Linked DNA regions of Homo sapiens: all the other regions are reported to be linked to region 1. The links are microRNA targets in miRTarBase. Many come from high-throughput screens and were not tested one by one. Region 1 holds a microRNA gene; each other region holds the end of a gene's coding sequence.
Evidence for each region. Region 1 holds the annotated microRNA hsa-miR-376c-5p (GGUGGAUAUUCCUUCUAUGUU, at 3,554-3,574, opposite strand). A microRNA usually pairs through its seed, bases 2 to 8, with sites in the 3' UTR of a target mRNA and lowers its output. Matches are read on the target gene's strand: a 7mer-m8 pairs with bases 2 to 8, a 7mer-A1 pairs with bases 2 to 7 and ends in A, and an 8mer does both.

Region 2: miRTarBase lists CRYZ as a target of hsa-miR-376c-5p. The part of its 3' UTR that is shown has no 7-base or 8-base seed match.
Region 3: miRTarBase lists FCAMR as a target of hsa-miR-376c-5p. Seed matches in the 3' UTR shown: 7mer-m8 at 473-479.

The regions. Positions count from the first base shown.
Region 1 is chr14:101,037,123-101,043,267 of GRCh38, reverse strand. MIR376C (microRNA 376c) reads right to left here and starts at 3,578; the gene lies at 3,513-3,578. MIR376A2 (microRNA 376a-2) reads right to left here and starts at 3,199; the gene lies at 3,120-3,199. MIR654 (microRNA 654) reads right to left here and starts at 3,049; the gene lies at 2,969-3,049. MIR376B (microRNA 376b) reads right to left here and starts at 2,832; the gene lies at 2,733-2,832. It also overlaps MIR376A1, MIR300 and MIR1185-1.
Region 2 is chr1:74,700,644-74,706,788 of GRCh38, forward strand. It overlaps CRYZ (crystallin zeta), which reads right to left. Exons shown (of 9, transcript NM_001889.4): 9 at 4,843-5,814. The coding sequence ends at 5,653. Among named protein-coding and RNA genes, the nearest start is that of CRYZ, 29 kb to the right of the region's middle.
Region 3 is chr1:206,952,666-206,958,810 of GRCh38, reverse strand. It overlaps FCAMR (Fc alpha and mu receptor), which reads left to right. Exons shown (of 8, transcript NM_001170631.2): 8 at 135-844. The coding sequence ends at 295. Among named protein-coding and RNA genes, the nearest start is that of PIGR, 9.3 kb to the right of the region's middle.

The sequences.
Region 1 (6,145 bases):
TGCACACAAAAAGGACCCTCCTCTCCCACTGCCTCCAGGGAGTCCACAGGAAGAACCAGCACAGAGAGCGAAGGCAGAACCCAAGGGCTAGGATCACAGCCAAGCTCACGTTCCCAGACAGGGAAGCCAAGCCGTACCTGAGAGGGGCTGACATCCGAGGCTTTGTCCTGGAGACAGCAGGGTCTGAGCGTCTTCCTCGACAGAGTTTGATACGCAAATAAGAGTCTCCCCCTGTATATTCGCCATTAATCAAGTGAACATACAAAGGGTATCCTCTCTTCAAGTACCAAAGAGTGGCTCAAAGAGCAGGTGAGGACTATGCCGGGTCTTCGCCGGAGTGGACATCTCCTCCTGCGAGGCCTGAGACCAAGGGGGAGGGGCCAGGTGACAAGCCTCATCTGGCTGGCCCTGGAGCTGGGGCCTGCCATACAGTTGACTTTACTTCCCAGCATCTCTTCACGACAGGATTGGTTACCAAAAGACAGGCAATCCTGTACCATTTGAAATAATGTAAATGTAAAATGGCTGAAATCCCTTTAGGGCCTGCAAAAACACCCTGGGAGAAGAACCTCTGCCTCTGCCCAAAGCCACTGCCTCCAGGAAGCCCTCCTGGTGAACACTGGCTAAGGGAGGTTAGAAGATGCAGTCACATGCATCATTAAAGAAAAAAGAGAAACAGAAATCCAACGCACTCCGTTTGCAAATCACAAAGCAGCACTATGACAAGTGTCCCTTCTCCTGAATTTGGCATTGTATTCAGAAAGCCATCTGAGCAGTTAGTTGTTACTCAGAAGTATTCATCTAGGGCAAGATTCGTCAAAGGAAAATGAGATTCTCATGGGCCAACTCTCTCTGAATAAACACATGCTAACACCAGGAATCCAAGGGTCTTTCCATTGGCAAGAATCCCTAAAGGACACCAATGGACTAAGAGAGCAGTGGGGCTTAGAGGTCCCAGCAGCAAGTCCTGTAGCCACACTGGGTGCTCTGGGGCCTCCTTCCTGTGGACTGGCCTTCCCTCAAGTGGACAGTGAGGTCCAAAAGTCACTCCAAGGATGGGCTAGGTATGGAGAGTGGGTAGACCAGATGACCCACATCTACATTAGACATTGACTTTGCTGACGGTCATTCTTTCATGTATCTGGGAGATGCACTGACCACGAGACCTCTTCTCAGAGGCTGGCATCATGCTGGGCAGACCTGCCGGAGTAGCAGCCCATGGATGCTTTGTGATAAGTAGGGCCCATCAAGGGAGGCCCTTTGTTCTTTTCTTTTTTTTTTAACCTATTGTGTTGAGACAGGGGTCTCTGTCAGCCAGGCTGAAGTGCAGTGGCACAATCTTGGCTCACTACAACCTCCCAACTCCCGGGCTCAAGTGATCCTCCAGCCTCAACCTCCTAAGTACTGGGACCACAGGCGCACACCATGACACCCAGCTAATTTTTGTATTTTTTGCAGAGATGGGGTTTCGCCAAGTTGCCCACGCTAGTTTCGAACTCCTGGGCTTAAGCCATCCACCGTCTCAGCCTCCCAAAGGGCTGGGGTTACAAGCGTGAGCCACCGTGCCCGGCCAAGGTAGGCCCTTTTTGCTAGGCAGAACAGGTGGTCTGAAGAGAAAACCCTATATCATCTCCAAAGCCAGCATCTCTTCCAGAAAGTTCTTGGAAGGAAGCATGAGATGAGGAGGGTCAGAGAACCAGGTCACAAACAGCAAGACAGAGGCACATGCCCTGTGGTCAACCATCCACACCCCAGGGCTATCCTGGCCATCTAACAGGTTGCTGGAGTCAGCCTTGTTCCCAAGAAGGCTTCCCAGGCAGGATTTGCTCCCCAGAGAGAGTCTGCCCTTGTATAATCATTGCAAGTAAAGCAAATGCGTGAAGGATTACCTCTCTTCAAGTAGCAAATGATGGCAGTGACAGGAAGGCCATTTCCTCTGTGACTAAGTTGCCACCAGCTCCAGGAGCAAGCCTTAGAGACACAGATGGGATCTGCATGGTGAGAGCAGCACACCGAGGTGTGAAGTGCAGGCCCGTGGGTGAATCACACATCTATTCCTTCCATAGCCCCTGAAGCAGTGCCCCTTCCTGAAATTGACAGCCCACTCAGGTATTCTCTAAGGTACAACTAGTCACAGTAAAAGAGGTTCATTCCAGAAAATGCATTGCAATCATGGTAAACATACAGAGAACAAACTTCATTCAAGGTCAATGAGGCAATACTGAGAACACAGCCTTGTAACAACACATTATGTGTGCACCAAGGGCAGTGAGCAAACAGCAGAGAAGCTGACGGCGTATTTCATACAAAGTACAATTCTGTGTCTGTCCGTCCTGTACCCAGGAGGGGTACAGATAACATCTCCTCTTCCATGGCGACTTCACGTCCTCCGAGGTTTTCAAAGCAGCATTTGATACTGAAAACGTGGATTTTCCTCTATGATTAATCATAAATAATGTACTCATAGAAGGAGAATCTACCTTTTAAATACCAAAGAAGGATTCCATCCAGGAAAGCGTGCACCTGTGCTTGAGTCATCAGAAAAGAAAGTCACATGAGGCAGACGAGCTTCCAGGGAAGAACTGGCACCACGAGACCCACAATTTAATCTTCACCAAGTTGGCGTCTCGAGATGGTTCTCGGGCATACCCCGTTCATTCAGATACGACGTGCGGCCTACCATCTTTGCACCTACTCAGGCCCTACGGTCTCTTCCAGAAACATTTCCAAAGCAGCATTTGATACTGAAAACATGGATTTTCCTCTATGATTAACCAGGAATCACGTAAACATAGAAGGAATATCCACGTTTTAAATACCAAAGAAGGACTGGGCTCTGGAAAGGACAAATCTGAACACAGTTCATGGAAAATGGAAGCAAGACAGTAAAGCAACCGTTTTCAGTCCCGTAGCATAGCTGTGACAACACACCACAGCCTGTGCACCAAGCTGGCTCCTCAGCGAAAGGGGGCTTCTAAAGGTGATGGTCAGCAGACATATGGCACGAACTCAGCACATGTTCTGCGGCCCACCATCTTTCCACTTACCCTGGAGGGCTCAGCCCCACCTCACGTCCCTGATGGTGGCTTCAGTCCAGCCATGATCCCAAGGCAGCATTTGATACTGAAAACGTGGATTTTCCTCTATGATTAACCATCAAACACGTAACCATAGAAGGAAAATCTACCTTTTAAATACCAAAGAAGGTTTCATCCCGGAAAGCACGAACCTAAGTACAATCCATCAAACACAAAAGTAACATAGCACAGAGGAGAGCATTCGGCCTCATGGAGAAAATGACGACGGAGCCCAGCCGCTTGGCCGAGCGGGCAGCTTGCGAGAGGGGTCTCCTCAAGGCGGGTGGGTGGTCCGCAGACATATGGCACGAATTCAGCACATGTTCTGAGGTCCACCGACTTTCCACTTACCCTGGAGTGGGGGGGGGGACTTTATTGTCTCTTCCCTGATGGTGGTTTCAGTCCAGGAATGTTTCCAAGCAGCATTTGATACTGAAAACGTGGAATTTCCTCTATGTTTAACCATAAATAACATAAACATAGAAGGAATATCCACCTTTTAAATACCAAAGAAGGATTGAGTCCTGGAAAGCATGAACCTAAGCACAATCTATCAAAATTAAAGACAGCACAGGATAGGTGCAGTCGGCAGGGGCCTCCCGGGCTAGCGGCAGTGACATGGGCCCTGCGGAGGACGCATGTCCCAGGACAGACCTTGCTAACAAGAGCTTAGGTTCTGGGATTCACCTTCCATCACTCTCCGCATGGGGGAGGGAGCTAACCTTCCTCTCAGAAATGTTCAGAAATGTTTTAAAAGCAGCCTTAGATACTGAAAATGCGGATTTTCCTCTATGATTCACCATAAATCCTGTAAGCATAGAAGGAACATCCACCTTTTAGATGGGAAAAGTGGGAACAGCCCTGGAGAGCACAAACGCAAACATGATTCATGAAAGACAGAAGGTAACAGAAGCAGGTGAGCACTTTGCGAGTCCCACGTGGGAAGCGCAGGGCCCACCCCTGGCCTCTTCACATCCAGAGATGGAACTCCTATGCAGGCAAACGTAAGTTTGGGGTCTGCCCTGCTGTCACTCGTCTGGGTGGGGGTAACCCTAATGTCTCTTCCCTAATGGAGGCTTCATGGTCAAGAGCGTTTCCAAAGTAGCATTTAATTCTGAAAAAAAAAAAAAAAAAAAGTGAATGTACATCAAAAATTTGCCACAAGTAAAGCAGGCAAAGTAGGGATTCTATGCTTTGAATTCGAAAAATATCAAAAACAAAAAGAAAATAAGCCTGTCAGGTTCCTAAAGTCACATCGCCTCCATGAAGCCCTCCCAAGGCACCTAATGACCAATGTCATGTAACTGTGGGCTGGAGCATCCTTCACATACCTTGGAGGGAGAAGGACACCCAAGAATCTTCCAGAGACTGAAGCTTGTGTCCAGAAAGTTTCAATCGGCAGGACTGGTCATGTTGGTGTGACAGACTGAGGAATAGGCAAACAGGTCAAAAACAATGTCTCTTTAAATACAACTGAGAGAGGTAGCAAAACATGATGCTCACCAGCCCCTACCACCACCACCCTCCACCACCACCACCACCACCACCACCAACACCACCAACACCACCACCACCAACACCACCACCACCACCACCACCAGTACCACCACCACCACCACCACCACCACCAACACCACCACCACCAACACCACCACCACCATCAGTACCACCACCACCACCACCACCACCAATACCACCAATACCACCACCACCACCACCATCACAACCACCACCACCAACACCACCACCACCAACACCACCACCACCAACACCACCAGTACCACCACCATCACAACCACCACCACCAACACCACCAACACCACCACCACCAACACCACCACCACCACCACCATCAGTACCACCACCACCACCACCACCACCACCACCACCACCACCACCACCATCAGTACCACCACCACCACCACCACCACCAATACCACCATCACCACCATCACCACCACCACCATCACCACCACCACCACCACCACCACCACCACCACTAATACCACCCTCCAAAAACAATGATCACAGCTTCCAGAAAAATCATTTTTGGGGTGGAGTGGATGCAGAGGCTTACTAAAATAGCGACAACACATGCCTCCCATAGCAAAAAATGAAGGACCAATAATCCCAGACTCAAACCCTATCTCGCAAGGGTGCCATCACTCCAGGAAGTGCCGCTAAAACGGCTTCAGTTCTGAGGACCAGGAGACATTTTCCACAAGCAAAGCGTATGCTCCATGTCCCACCCTCCATTCACATTCCACACACGGACAACCTACACCAATCTCACTTCTCTAAAGCTGGAACTGGTTCAAAAAAGTCTTGTACTTGAAAACCACTACTTCTCACACATGCAGAGTTAGACATTCCTCCTACTGGCGAATGGATCAGTGAGTGGACCAGATAACACCCATTGTCTGCTATTAGCCAGTCCCTCCCCTGCAGTCACAGCTTGTTGAGGAAGCAAGTCTGATCCCCCGAAGCCCCCAAGCACGATTTGGCATAAATAAAGCACGTCTACATGGACAAGCATTCTGCACATACCAGCCAGAGCAAGGCCACTTCCCCCAGGTCGGGGCTGCCTCCACGAGGCCCTGTTGAGAACCAGTGGGACATAGCTGGTTAGGGAATTGGACGGTCTGAGTCATAAACATGTATTCTGTGTGGCCAGACATCATTCGTGTCCCAAGGAGTGGGTCTTGCCAGGATGGTCCTGAAGGAGGGGGACATGTGATTGAGGAATAGCTGCTGGCTGGGCTTAGGGGTCTTCTTTTGGTAACTGAAACAGCGGCAGCCTGGAAGAGCTGGGGTAGGTGTAGTAACCAGCCAAGGAACTCTTCTTCCCCTGTGTTGGGAGAAAGGTCAGCCCACACACTGTCTCTTCCAAGGGGCTGGCATCCCTCCCTGAGGGGCCTGGCTAGGGTACCCAGGCTAGTGAACTGACACATCCGTGTCTGCCCCGGGCCCTCAGCTCTAGGTGCAGCTGACTCCCCAGGCCCTGCTGTGGGATGTGGCTGCAGCAGCCCTGCTCAGGACTTGTCCTTAATTGCATATGCCCCTAATTG
Region 2 (6,145 bases), not on the chromosome of region 1:
CTTGGCTCTGTCACCCAGACTGGAGTGCAGTGGCACAATCTCGGCTCACCGAAACCTCTGCCTCCCGGAGTCAAGCAATTCTTGTGCCTCAGCCTCCCGAGTAGCTGGGATTACAGGCATGTACCACCAAGCCCAGCTAATTTTTTTGTATTTTTAGTAGAGATGGGGTTTCGCCATGTTGGTCAGGCTGGTCTCGAACTCCTGACCTCAGGTGATCCGCCCGCCTCAGTCTCACAAAGTGCTGCAATTACAGATGTGAGCCACTTGCACCCGGCTCATCTAAAAGTTTTTGATGTTAGAAGTGAAGTCAAATATTAGCTTTATTTTTTTTCCCAAATGGGGAGCCAGTTCTCTTATTGAATAACCTCTCACCCCACTCAAAAGCCATTTTTACCATCCGCAAAGGGAAGCAGCATACCTGGACTCAACTAGATTTGTTCCACTAATCTAGTTATCATTGAGCTAATACGAGTCCACCTTAGTAACTCTAACTTGGGAAAAAATGTTCACATCTGCTGGGACTGGTTCCAGCTCATTTTCTTTTCTTAATTTTTCTGGCTTCCTTTTTCTCCCCCTCCCTCCCCCTCCCCCACCAAAAAAAACAAACACCTTTAGAAATATGTTGTCAAGTTTCTAAAAATTCCTATTATTTTGACATAAATAACTTTGAATTTCTAGCATATGAAGGGAGAATCTTTACATGAATCTGACCAAGAATCATTTCTTTGAGTAATCCTTTATGTCCTCCATGAGAGTTTTGTAGTTTTCTTTTTAAAGGTCCTGTGTGTTCTTGTAAATTTGGTAGCTTGTATTTTACTACTTAAAAATTGTTTTTTCTTAAAAATTTTTGTGGGCACATAGCAGATGTACGTATTTATGGGGTACATGAGATGTCTCGATACAGGCATGCAATGTGAAATAAGCACATCATGGAGAATGGGGTATCCATCCCCTCAAGCATTTATCCTTGAATTACAAACAATCCAATTACACACATAAGTTATTTCTCACCGCTTTTAAAATTAGTGGTAGTAGTGGCATTGCAATTGTGAAAGAGATCTTTTTTCATTATTTTATAATTTTCTAATATGAATCATTACTGATTCATATTAATTTCTATATATTATATAATTAACCAGTTTTCTTAACTCATCAATAGTTTTTCTGTTTGTTCTCCTGCATATTCTAGGTTTTGAATAACATAATTGTAAATAATGATCCTTCAGCATGCTCCCTTCCAAATCTATGTGAAATTTAAACATTTAAAAGATGTATCTTATTACCAGGTCTTCATTAATTTTACACAGACATAATTAATATTATCAGTGAATAAACTTAGCTCTTTGGTTTAGGCCAGGAATTTTCTTTAATTATTACTTCTTTCATTATTCTGTGAAAGTTAGGGGGCATGCCTATAATTTAAAGGTTGTTTTTGCTTTTTGTTTGTTCTATCATATTATTTTCTTCATCTTTTTCTCTATACTTTTGGAGAGTTATGAAATTTGTTCACGTGACCAAGTTTTCTGTAATGTCAGTCATGCTCATTTGCACCTCCTCTGGGGATTTGCATTTGGGATTCCTTTTTGCATATTTCAGGATGCTCTCTCTTCATTCCTCCTCTGTCTCAATTTACTCTTTTTTGGCTAATGAAAATAAAAGATTATTAATCATTTAAACACGTGTTTGTGCAAGACAGAGTGCTAAGTACTACACAACCATTATCTCATTTAATTCTTACAATTCTGAGCTCCCTAAGCTCCAAATAATTAATTTGCCTAGGATTCCATAGCTTGTCAATAACAGTGCTAGGCTTTAAATCCAGTTTCTTTGCCTTCAGAACCCATGCTCTTGACAACTATACCAGAGATGTACTTGTGGCCTTCCTCCCTGCCCATAAGAGAGGTCAGTTTCTTCCAGATCAATATCTGGAGTGAGATAGCCTCTTCAATATTTTGCGTCAATTCCAGTGCCTGCTGGACTAAGGTACGGGCATCTTCTGCTCCAATTTTTACATTATCTGGCTTTGCTAGAGTCAGACAAATGTTGTTTGCACAAGTCTTGTATTTCTCCAGCAATTCCACTCTCAATCCATTTGCAAGATTTTCTCTGTGGTGACATCTGAGGGTGCAAAGTTCCACTTCCTCCTTAATCTATAGCTGTACTGAAAACTGAAACCTGTAGTCTCTAAAATGCATGTGAAAGCAAGGAGCTGAAGGATACTGTGGGGTGGACCTAGACCTCAATTCTAGCTAGTTCAGATGATTTCTGGTTAAAAAAAAAAAAAAAGTGTGTGTGTGTGTGTGTGTGTGTGTGTGTGTGTGCGGCGGGGGACTTGGTTTTCCAGGCAGTGTACCTCCTGTGTCCCAAGTTAGAGGCAGTGATTGAGTTGTGGCTTTTTCCTGCCTACTCTGTAGATAATTTGGTTCAACGAATCAAATGATTGACACTTATGTTAGAAATTCCCAGTGGATTTTGTCACATGGTTTTCTCTTCACTGTCTTGTACTACTGGAGTTTTGTGGGTATTTTTACATGAAGTTGGGAATGAATAAATCAGGGACTGCGATCTGTAGTTATATTTAGCACATTTAATGAACATCCATATCACATAATTTTGGGATCAGTATTAGACTCACTTTTAACGACACACATGGAGTGTCTCCATGTATGACTTAGGGGTCGACATAGACCAAAGTGAACTTACGTTTCTTTCTATAACATTTCCTAGGCCTTGTCCTGGGATGTAGGAAGTTCCCACAGTATAAGCCCTATGGATTAGCAAAATTGTCATATGACAATTTTTAAATGACTTTTTAAAGCACTGTACTAAAAAAATGAAAGCATTAGAAATGATTGAGCATTGAGCTGAGGTGTTTTTCTGTTTGCGAGATACGGTCAAGGAGGCGCAAAGAGGTAGGTCAAAGTGACCTGACAGGTTTTGCTGTTCTTGGAAATCGTGCAGAAAAAGAAAGCTCTTTATACCACAAATTGGGGAAGCCCCTTGGCACACATACAATTTCTTGTCTCAACAGGCGAGTTACGGACATTAAAAAAATGCTAGTTTTTTTTTTCCCCCTTTCAGAAGCATCCTATTTTTTACCTCTATGGTTAAAGCTACTATGGATGGAGACAGCTAACAAATGCATCAAATGTATGAAATGTGTGACTGCAAATCCCAAGCTACACTAAGTGCCCTTCCTCTGTGTCTGTCACCCTTGTGATGGTTAGTTTTGTGTCAACATAGTCAACATGTGCCACTTACATGTTTATACAAAATTATCAGTTGACTTTAAGGAGATGTCCCTCAATAATGCAGGTGGGCCTCATCCAATCAGTTGAAAGCCTTAAGAACAAAAACTAAGGTTTCACAGAGAAAGAATTCTGCAAGACTGCAACAATAGAAACTAGTTGTATTTCTAGCCTGCTGGCCTGCCCTACAGATTTTAACTTGCCAGTCCCCATAATTGCATGAGCAAATTCTTTCAAATGCATCTCTTAATATATTTTATTGCTTGTTTGTCTGGAGAACCCTGTATGACACTCCCTTATATTCTAAAATGTTTTACTTGGGTCTCATCCTTACTCAACTGTAAGCTCAAGGATATGCACTCTGTCTTATATATCTCTGTATTTTCAAAATCCAACAGGGTGCTTTCTCAGACTCTAGGTACTCAATAAATACTTGTTGAACTAATGGATGCACAGAATAATCTGTTAGAGAAGCCAGAGGTACAGTGAGCAAGGAAAGCCAGAGGCCTGGAAAGTTAAATTTATGGTTTTATATCGACAGCCCACAAAAAAGTCAGCTGAATTTGAATCTCCTAGTCATGTGACCTTTGGTATGTTGATTCACCTTTTTGGGCTCAGGGTGCTGACCAATTTGGTCTCTAATACATTACATGACTAGGTCACACAAGTCAAAGCAACCAGGAACAGAAATCCAAAAGACTGAGTTAAACAATGTTTGTTTATTATACAGGTTATTCTCTACTTTTCATCAAGAATGGGCACTGAAGACTATGTAGTAGCCCTAAGGCCACAGGCACCAACCAAGTAGTGAATGCAGTTGGCTGAAAGTTGGGACAAGACTAAAACCACAGAGATTTATGCAGAGAACATACCCAGTGCTACATCATAAATATGGTAGTTAATGCACACAGTTTGGCTAGTTTTGGCTTCAAAATTAATTAAACTGTATCAATGTATTTTGAAGTGTTAAGTCATCTGTATGCTTTAGCTCCTTCTATAGATGAGGCAAATATACAAACAGATTAAACTGACTTTTACAGAATAATTATTCTTTTACCTTGTTTACATGGAAAGGAATCCTCCATTTTAGGATGCACATAAAATGCCAGCCTATGTTGATGACATTGCCTTAACACTTTTTTTTTAAGTAATTTTACAGGGTAGTTAACCTGTAAAAGAAACAGTGGATAAACTTGAAAATGCTAATAGCAAAAAACACTTCAGCCATGGCACATACAACCAGAAGCCAATGATATCCTTCAACTATAGAAATTAGCGGTGTTTTCTGTTTATTCCTGAAGCAGGATTCCATATTCAAGCCAGAAATTGTCATTCAACAGAAAAAATCAGGTCAAAACAATCAATCACATAATGTAGCAAGACAAAAGTATGTGCTTATGTGAAGAAAAACAAAAACAACAAATAACCGAACTTTTATTTTCTTGAATATAATATTGATGGCAAGATTGCTAAGAGGTCATCCCTGTATTTAGTTTAGATAAAGGCTTCCAGCATAGAACACTGTTAAGAAGTAACTGTCAGGAGCTATGCAGAAGTGATGAGAGGCAAATAATATAAAAACTAGAAAAGCAGGTTTTAATTTTCTATAGACTTTATTACACATTATTATGTTACGAGACAAATGCAGATAATTCTTAATTTATCAAATTTGTGAGCTTAATTAACAAAAATATTTGACCCTCACCAGAAAAACAGATAACTCTAAATCTACTCTGAAAATCTAATCAATTGCGAAGTATTACCTATTTGGAGACTATGTATTATATCAAAGATAAAGCTACTATTCTCACAGAACATATGGGGTCATTGGCAGCCAACCAATAATGAAGTAAATATTCTAATATTTGGGAAAATACTGAGAAAACTAATAAATTGTCCTGGATATTATTTATTCTTGCCTTTACAAAAGACTTACACATCCAAATGAGATTAGTTTAGAATAGAGGTTTTTAGTTCAGAAAATGTTCAAAGTCCAATACAGTCATGGCTAATCAGAGACTAGAGAACCTTTATAAAGGTAAGTAGGCTTGAAAACCCTTGGAAACTGAGCAGTCTTATTTTGAACTAGCATGTTTTAATCAAAGGTATGGAATTAATCAAATATCAATTAAGAATTACTGGAATGCACACTCATGCCAAATGACAACTAACATGTTATTTCCTACTATGATGACTCTTTGATTTGAGACAGATGGCATAAAAAAATATTGCTAGCTATACAATAAATTTTACTCTTCTGCTTCTGCTCTCTAAAGAAAAATCTTATTTTTTCACATAAGAAGCTCATGGAATCGAATGTTAATTAAAGAAAAGATAGGGTAAGTACAACTGGGGGAAAGACAGTACCTCTAATTACATAGGAAATCCATGAAAGAATTAATCATCATAAGAGAAGAATCATTTTTCCAGTAGCCCCACTACCATGAATGATATTTTCATGAGCCTCGGCCACCTTCTCCAATGGATATTGAGAACCTATCACAGGTTTCAACCAGCCAATTTCCATTCCAGCTTGAAGGGCTGCTGCATATTGCTGAAATTCCTCCTAAGAAAAGGAAAAACAAATTTCTTTTTGTAGTGAACCGTATGATTTAATTTTCAGAAGCATTAAAAACACTTCAGAATCTAAGTGTTATACCATGAAGAGTCTCTTACAAATGTGTGACTTTTGTCAACTTGTCCAGAACTATAGAAAAAGTAGTTATCTACAGGGTAACCATAAATCCCATCTGCCTGAGACAGTGTTAGTGTACAAAATACCTGTTGTCCTGAAATTATTACTAGTATCACATTTCTATCTCAAAAGGTATGCTTACCTGGATATAAATTATACTGTCACCCTAGTTGTCCTTCTGGTGACTAATCCTTACCAACTC
Region 3 (6,145 bases), not on the chromosome of region 1:
AGCCAACTAGGGCTCCATTGCTTCTGTGTCAGAAAGTTCTTGAAAACTTGCAGTGGTTGGGAGTGGTTCTTAGGAAATCAAAGTCAGTGCTGTCCTTACCCAGAACCCTCACAGTCTGCTCTGTGTCTCTGCAGCTCAGGAGGCAGAAAGGGTCACCTTAATTCAGATGACACATTTTCTGGAAGTGAACCCCCAAGCAGACCAGCTGCCCCATGTGGAAAGAAAGATGCTCCAGGATGACTCTCTTCCTGCTGGGGCCAGCCTGACTGCCCCAGAGAGAAATCCAGGACCCTGAGGGACAGAGAGATGAACTGCTCAGTTACCATGGGAGAAGGACCAAGATCAAAGGCCTTCAGGACCCCAGCCTCTTTCCATCATCCTTCCTCCACCTGTGGGAAGAGAAGCTGATGCAGCCGGTGCTCCACCCATGGAAGAAAGGCTGGCTGTCCTTGGGCCCAAGAAAGTCAAGCATTATCCACGTCCAAAGGTGACAAGATGACTCAAAGGAGACTTCAAGAACAGTGTATGAAACACTGGAAGAGGTCACCTAGGAAAAGCATGAAATTTCCATTCCTGAATGTTTGAAAATAGAAGAGGCTTCCAATCAGTGTGGAAAGTGACAAATCCCCTATCAACACTCCCAGCCCTTGCTGGGGGCTCCTTTTCTGACTACTGTTAGCACTCAGCCTCCCATTCACATGTATTATATTTAAGTGTACCAGCCTTGCCTTCTCAAGTAGATTCTAAGCTCCTTTAAGGCAGTAATTGCATTTTATCTGTCTCATGATGCCCCCAGAGAACTTCCAACTCAGTAGGACCCCAATAAATACCTGTGTCTGATTGACTTGGGGGCTCAGTGGCCTCTAGGCACCCTTCCTCTGCAAGAACTCTGGGTCCCCCTGGGCTTCTGCCCCTCCTTTTGGGAGTCCCCTAGATGACCCCACAGGCAGCTGGTTTCTCCGCTGAGATCAAAAGGGCAAACACCCATTCCTCACATCATCCCGCCCCATTTGGACCCAGGCTTATTGTGCCGTAGACCTTTTGACCCGGCCAAGATTTTCTGGGATTTTCCTACATTCATGGAGGAGCAGGGTATTTTCAGTAGATTCTTGCTTTCTTCATAAAGGCCCTCTTGTTCAGCTGCTTATAAATCCTCGATATGGAGGACTGTTGGTGAAGCTGGAAAATGGTTTTTGGGGGTGAGGTGGGAGACAAAAGAGAGGAATTTTATGTGGATTCTGCCCTGTAACTACATCACCTCATGCTTGTCAGGGAACTTTCGCTCCACCCTAGGCCCCACTGCCTTTCCAGGAATCACATCCACTATTTTCTTTTGCCAGATCCGCTGGCAAACTGTCTGGGCTCCATTGTTGGATGGAACAGCCTGAGCGGTGGAGGCAGAAAGGAAAAATAGGCACCAATATCGAGTTGAGAATTGCCAGGTAGACATTTCCAGAAGGCTTAGTCCTGCCTTCTAAGCTGTCAGCAGCACAGAAATCCTTCAGTAATACCCCCTTATATCTGGTTCTGAACACAGACACTGTACAAAGAAAATCAAGGAGATGCCGGTTTTATGGCTTATAAGAGAAACCTGTTGTTTTGGATAAGTAGGAAAATTGCACACATCTAACCACATGGAATCGCAGAATTTCAGAGCTAACAGATCTTTAGAGATTAGTCTAATATCCTCATTCTAGAAGAGAGGGACTTGAGGCCCAACAGGGTTAAGGGTACAGGTGGGGGGCGCTTGTTTAAAGTCACCCAGTTAACCCAGTTAGTTATAGCACTGTGAGGACTAGCAAAGAGAACTCGTGACCTTGGTTCAGGGCCTTTTTCACTTCACCATTGCTGAGCATTGTACCAAAGCAAAACTCACTGTCAAAAATCAAGGATACCACAGTCGTCCCTCGAGACTATTTTCCTGTTCGCTTTCTCAATGACCTGCCCCAAATAATCCTGTAACGGAGATAGGACAGACATCATGGATCCTATTCAACCAATGAGGGAGCAGGCTCTGCAAGGTGTGTACTTCAGCAAAGGCCACTCGGAGCAGCCCACCTCCACAGCTATGTTCTGGATCGCCGTGCCCCTTGCTTGGATTTATGATCTAGGTATCTGGTCAGGTCCTTTCCTGTGTAAAGCTCTAAAGGCTCACTTCTTTCTCTCTCTCTCTCTTAGGCTTGTGCATGGAAGGTTTCATGATCATTCCCAGGAATTGGTTCTCATTTGTGGCAGGGATGGGCCCAGCACCCAGACTGTTTCTAATGCTAGATTCTCAGGATGTGAAAAGGTGTTCTGAGGAAAAGGAGGTTTGGTAGATTAATGAAGTTTTGGAAATGCTGGGAAACCACAAACATTCTTCTATGCAGGATCTTTTGGAGCCTTTGCTATATGGAGGTGTATTGTGAAACACCCTGGGTTTTCACACCTCGGGATGGGGACATAATGTGTGTTTCCCAGATGTGTTGGATTATTGTGTTTGATTGAAGCAGTCCCAAGGGGCTGGAGTTCCTCACATCACTGTTTGGGGAAGCCTGATGCACTAAACCCGGGGTTGGCCAACTCTTCAGTAAAGGGCCACATGGTAAACATTTTAGGCTTTGCAGGCCATACAGTCTCTATGGCAACTACTCAGTTCTGCCGTTGCAGCACAAAAGCAGCCAGGCAATCGAGAAACAAATGACCGCAGCTGTGTTCCAACAAAACTTTATTTCCCAAAACAGGAGGGAGGCTGGATTTGGCCCTTGAGCCAGAATCTGCCAGTCCCTGGACTAAGCCATGAAATTGTACAGGACTCTTTTGTTCCCACTCGGATCTGGAGATCAGATCCTATTCTTCCTCAAGGGCTTCCCTGACCACCTTTCTCCAGGACCTCTCCTTCCTCCAAACGGCTCTAATACTTTCATTGTGGAATTCAGCAGCTAGAATGTTCTGTCTGACTACCCCATCTTGGGGGAAGAAGGGGAGGGAGGAGACAACCAGCCCAGCAAGAGTGTTGGCCACGTGGCTAGAGCCAGGAGCGTTTCTAGCAGGGAGGCCGTTATAGGGAAAGTTAAGCTCCACCAGAGGTGGAGCTGGTAAGAGTTCAAAAGGCCAGGGCAGGGCCAGATTAGAGTCCCAGGGCCAAGAGTTTGGAGGGGGCAGAGATAAGATCTGAGTAAGAACTTTCAGGGAGAGAAGCGGGGAAGCCCCAAGTGTTCACAGCTCTCCTTTATGGGCTAACTGATCCATGGAGTAGTCAGGAGGGTTGATTTAAAGGGCCAGAGGCCAAACTGGCAGAGGAGGCCACCTCCACCACTTGGTATTGTCAGTGCTGTTGTTTTTCATCTTATACCTCCGGCTAGCATGATGCCTATACCACTGAGATGAGGGGCAGGCAAACATCTATCCCTAGGCCAGAATCAGGGAAGCCTCCCTGGGGATTTCTAACTTAGGATTAGAATCTAATCGAGGATGCAGGGAGACCATTGATTTTCACAAGATCAAGCAGATTCTCAGGTTCGGGTGCATTTCTGCAGTTCACTTTACACTGTTACTTACTAACGCTGCTACTGCTTGTTAACGTGTTTCTGCACAGCAGGCACTATCCTAGGTGTTTTCACATTGTGTATCACAGTTACGGTAACATTTCTGTAAGGTAGGTGTGATCATTCCCATTTCATAGATGGGAAATCTGAGGACCAGAGAAGTTAAGTTACACTACTCAGGAAAGGGCACACTGGGACTTCATGCAAAGCACCTCACCTCCACAGCTGCATTCTCGATCTTTGTGTCCCCTGCCTTCCCCCTTGCTTGGATGTATAGTCTGAGTATCTGGTCAGGTCCCTTCCTGTGTAAAGCTCTAAAGGTTTGCTTCTTTCTTTCTTTCTCTCTCTCTCTCTCTCTCTCTCCCTCTCTCTGTCTTTCTCTCTCTCTTTTTCTTAGGCTCGTGCATGGAAGGTTTCATAATCATTTCCAGGAATTGGTTCTCTTTAGTCACCTAACTAGTTTATTACAACCCTGGCCTAATGAGGCATTAAAAAAAAAAGTTCAGAGAGCCGGAACTAGAGCTAAAAATTCAGGCACCAGCCCTGAGGTCCTTGCTGACATATGTATAAAAGGAGCTCAGATCTTTATTTGTGGGGATGTCCATCTGTCTCAGCTTACTCGGGGCAAATGCATGACTCTAAGCCAACTTTTGAGAGCTCTCTGCTAATACGTTGGAGGTTTCTTCCTCTCCTCCAATAGCCCACTGTGGTCTGAGACATAAAAAATCAGTTTAATAACAGCCTCAGTCAGGCCCTAGGGGAAGATACCTCCACAGAGAGACCCATAACGCACTGCAGCCAAGTAGACACAGGTTATTTGATTGTGCTCACCTGGTACAGATATCCCAGAGCTGAAAGCATGACTAATGTGGAATGGAGAATGGAGATTCTACTCAGAAAGAAACAAACCCTGCATTCAGGGTCCAGCACCACCAAGCTCTTCATTTTTCATACAGTGACACAGCTTGGTTTACAGGTGCTGGCCTTCCCGGGCCAGCCTGCTCCCTTCACTGTCAGCAGTATGATGAGCTGTCATCCTACTGCCTACTCTCTAAGGGGCCAGCTGAAACCCATGTGGGCAGCAGAGAAGCGGCAGCCTTAGGAGAGAACCCCATGCTGCACCTCTACAGGCATGTGGTGATCACCAGTGCCAATGCCCCTGGCCTGCAGACCACTGTTTGCCTCCTGGATGCATTGCATCAAAGACATTGATTGAAGCCAGGCACCGTGGCTCATGCCTGTAAACCCAGCACTGTGGGAGCGTGAGGCAGGAGGATCACTTGATGCCAGGCGCTTGAGACCAGCCTGGGCAACATAGTGAGACCTCATCTCTACAAACAACAACAACAAAAAGACACACATTTACTGAGTAGGATCTGAACTCTTCTATGTTCTGCCTCTGCCACCTCTGGCCTTGTTCCCACTGCTCACTTACTTGCTACCTCTATCCAGATCTACCAGTTCTGCTGTGAGCATAGAGGGTCAAACAAAGGCTACTTCTTTCCCTGAGTGGCAAACTTCTGGCTTCCTAACCTTGAGTACTTTAGAGAAGAGGAAGAAAGCTAGGACTACTGTGTCCAAAGGTGTTTTCAGAATGCTCTAATTTGTCTGAAGATACTGTGTTTCATTTCAGACAAGAGTTCAAGAAAAAGAATTCAGACTGTGGCTTCTTTAGGGCCTGGCATGGGAAGATCAGACTGATTAGCAAATGCAACTAATCTAAACATTTTATGGGGCCAGCACTTTCCTTCCCTACCTCTGCCAGTGGAGTACAGACAACTACAAATTAATTACAATATACATCACCAAAAAGAAACATACTCCCATTCTAGAGATGGGAACATTGAGGCTCAGATGAACACAGGCTGCAGGGGATTACAGGGGCTATTTTTCCAATCGCTGCCTGTCAGGCAAGCCTTGGGCCGAGAGCCAGGCTCAGACCAGGAACAAGGAAACAGCAAGTCTTCAGCAGGACCCCAGTGGCTTATGAGAGGGGCTGGGCCCAGTCACCTGACACTCCACCTATTGACTTTGGATGTCTACTCCAAAAATCTTCCTCCTTCCGCTTCTCCCTAGCCAGGGTGTGGAGGTAACAGCACATAGGACAATGGTTGGGTAACCTCAAAAAAGGTTTGCTCATATGTCCCTGCCTCTCAGAAACAGAGAATCAAAGCTCTTTGGAGTGTAGAGACTAGACCCAAAGAAGAATTGAGAGAGCTTTTGGACCATGGCTGACTTTCCATTTCCAGGGCCTTTTTCTTTCTTTTTTTTTTTTTAAATATTTTTTTTATTTATTTATTTTTGAGACAGACTCTCGCTCCCTCGTCCAGGCTGGAGTGCAGTGGCACAATCTTGGCTCACTGTAACCTCCACCTCCAGGGTTCAAGCAGTCCTCCTACCTCAGCCACCTGAGTAGCTGGGATTACAGGAGCACGCCAGCATGCGCGGTTAACTTTTGTATTTTTAGTAGAGTATTTTTCACAATGTTGGCCAGGCTGGTCTCGAACTCCTGGCCTCAAGTGATCGCCTCACTTGGCCTCCTGAAGTGCTGGGATTACAGGTGTGGGCCACCACACCCAGCCTCCAGGGCCTTTTATGTTCCACTTCACTCCCCGCTC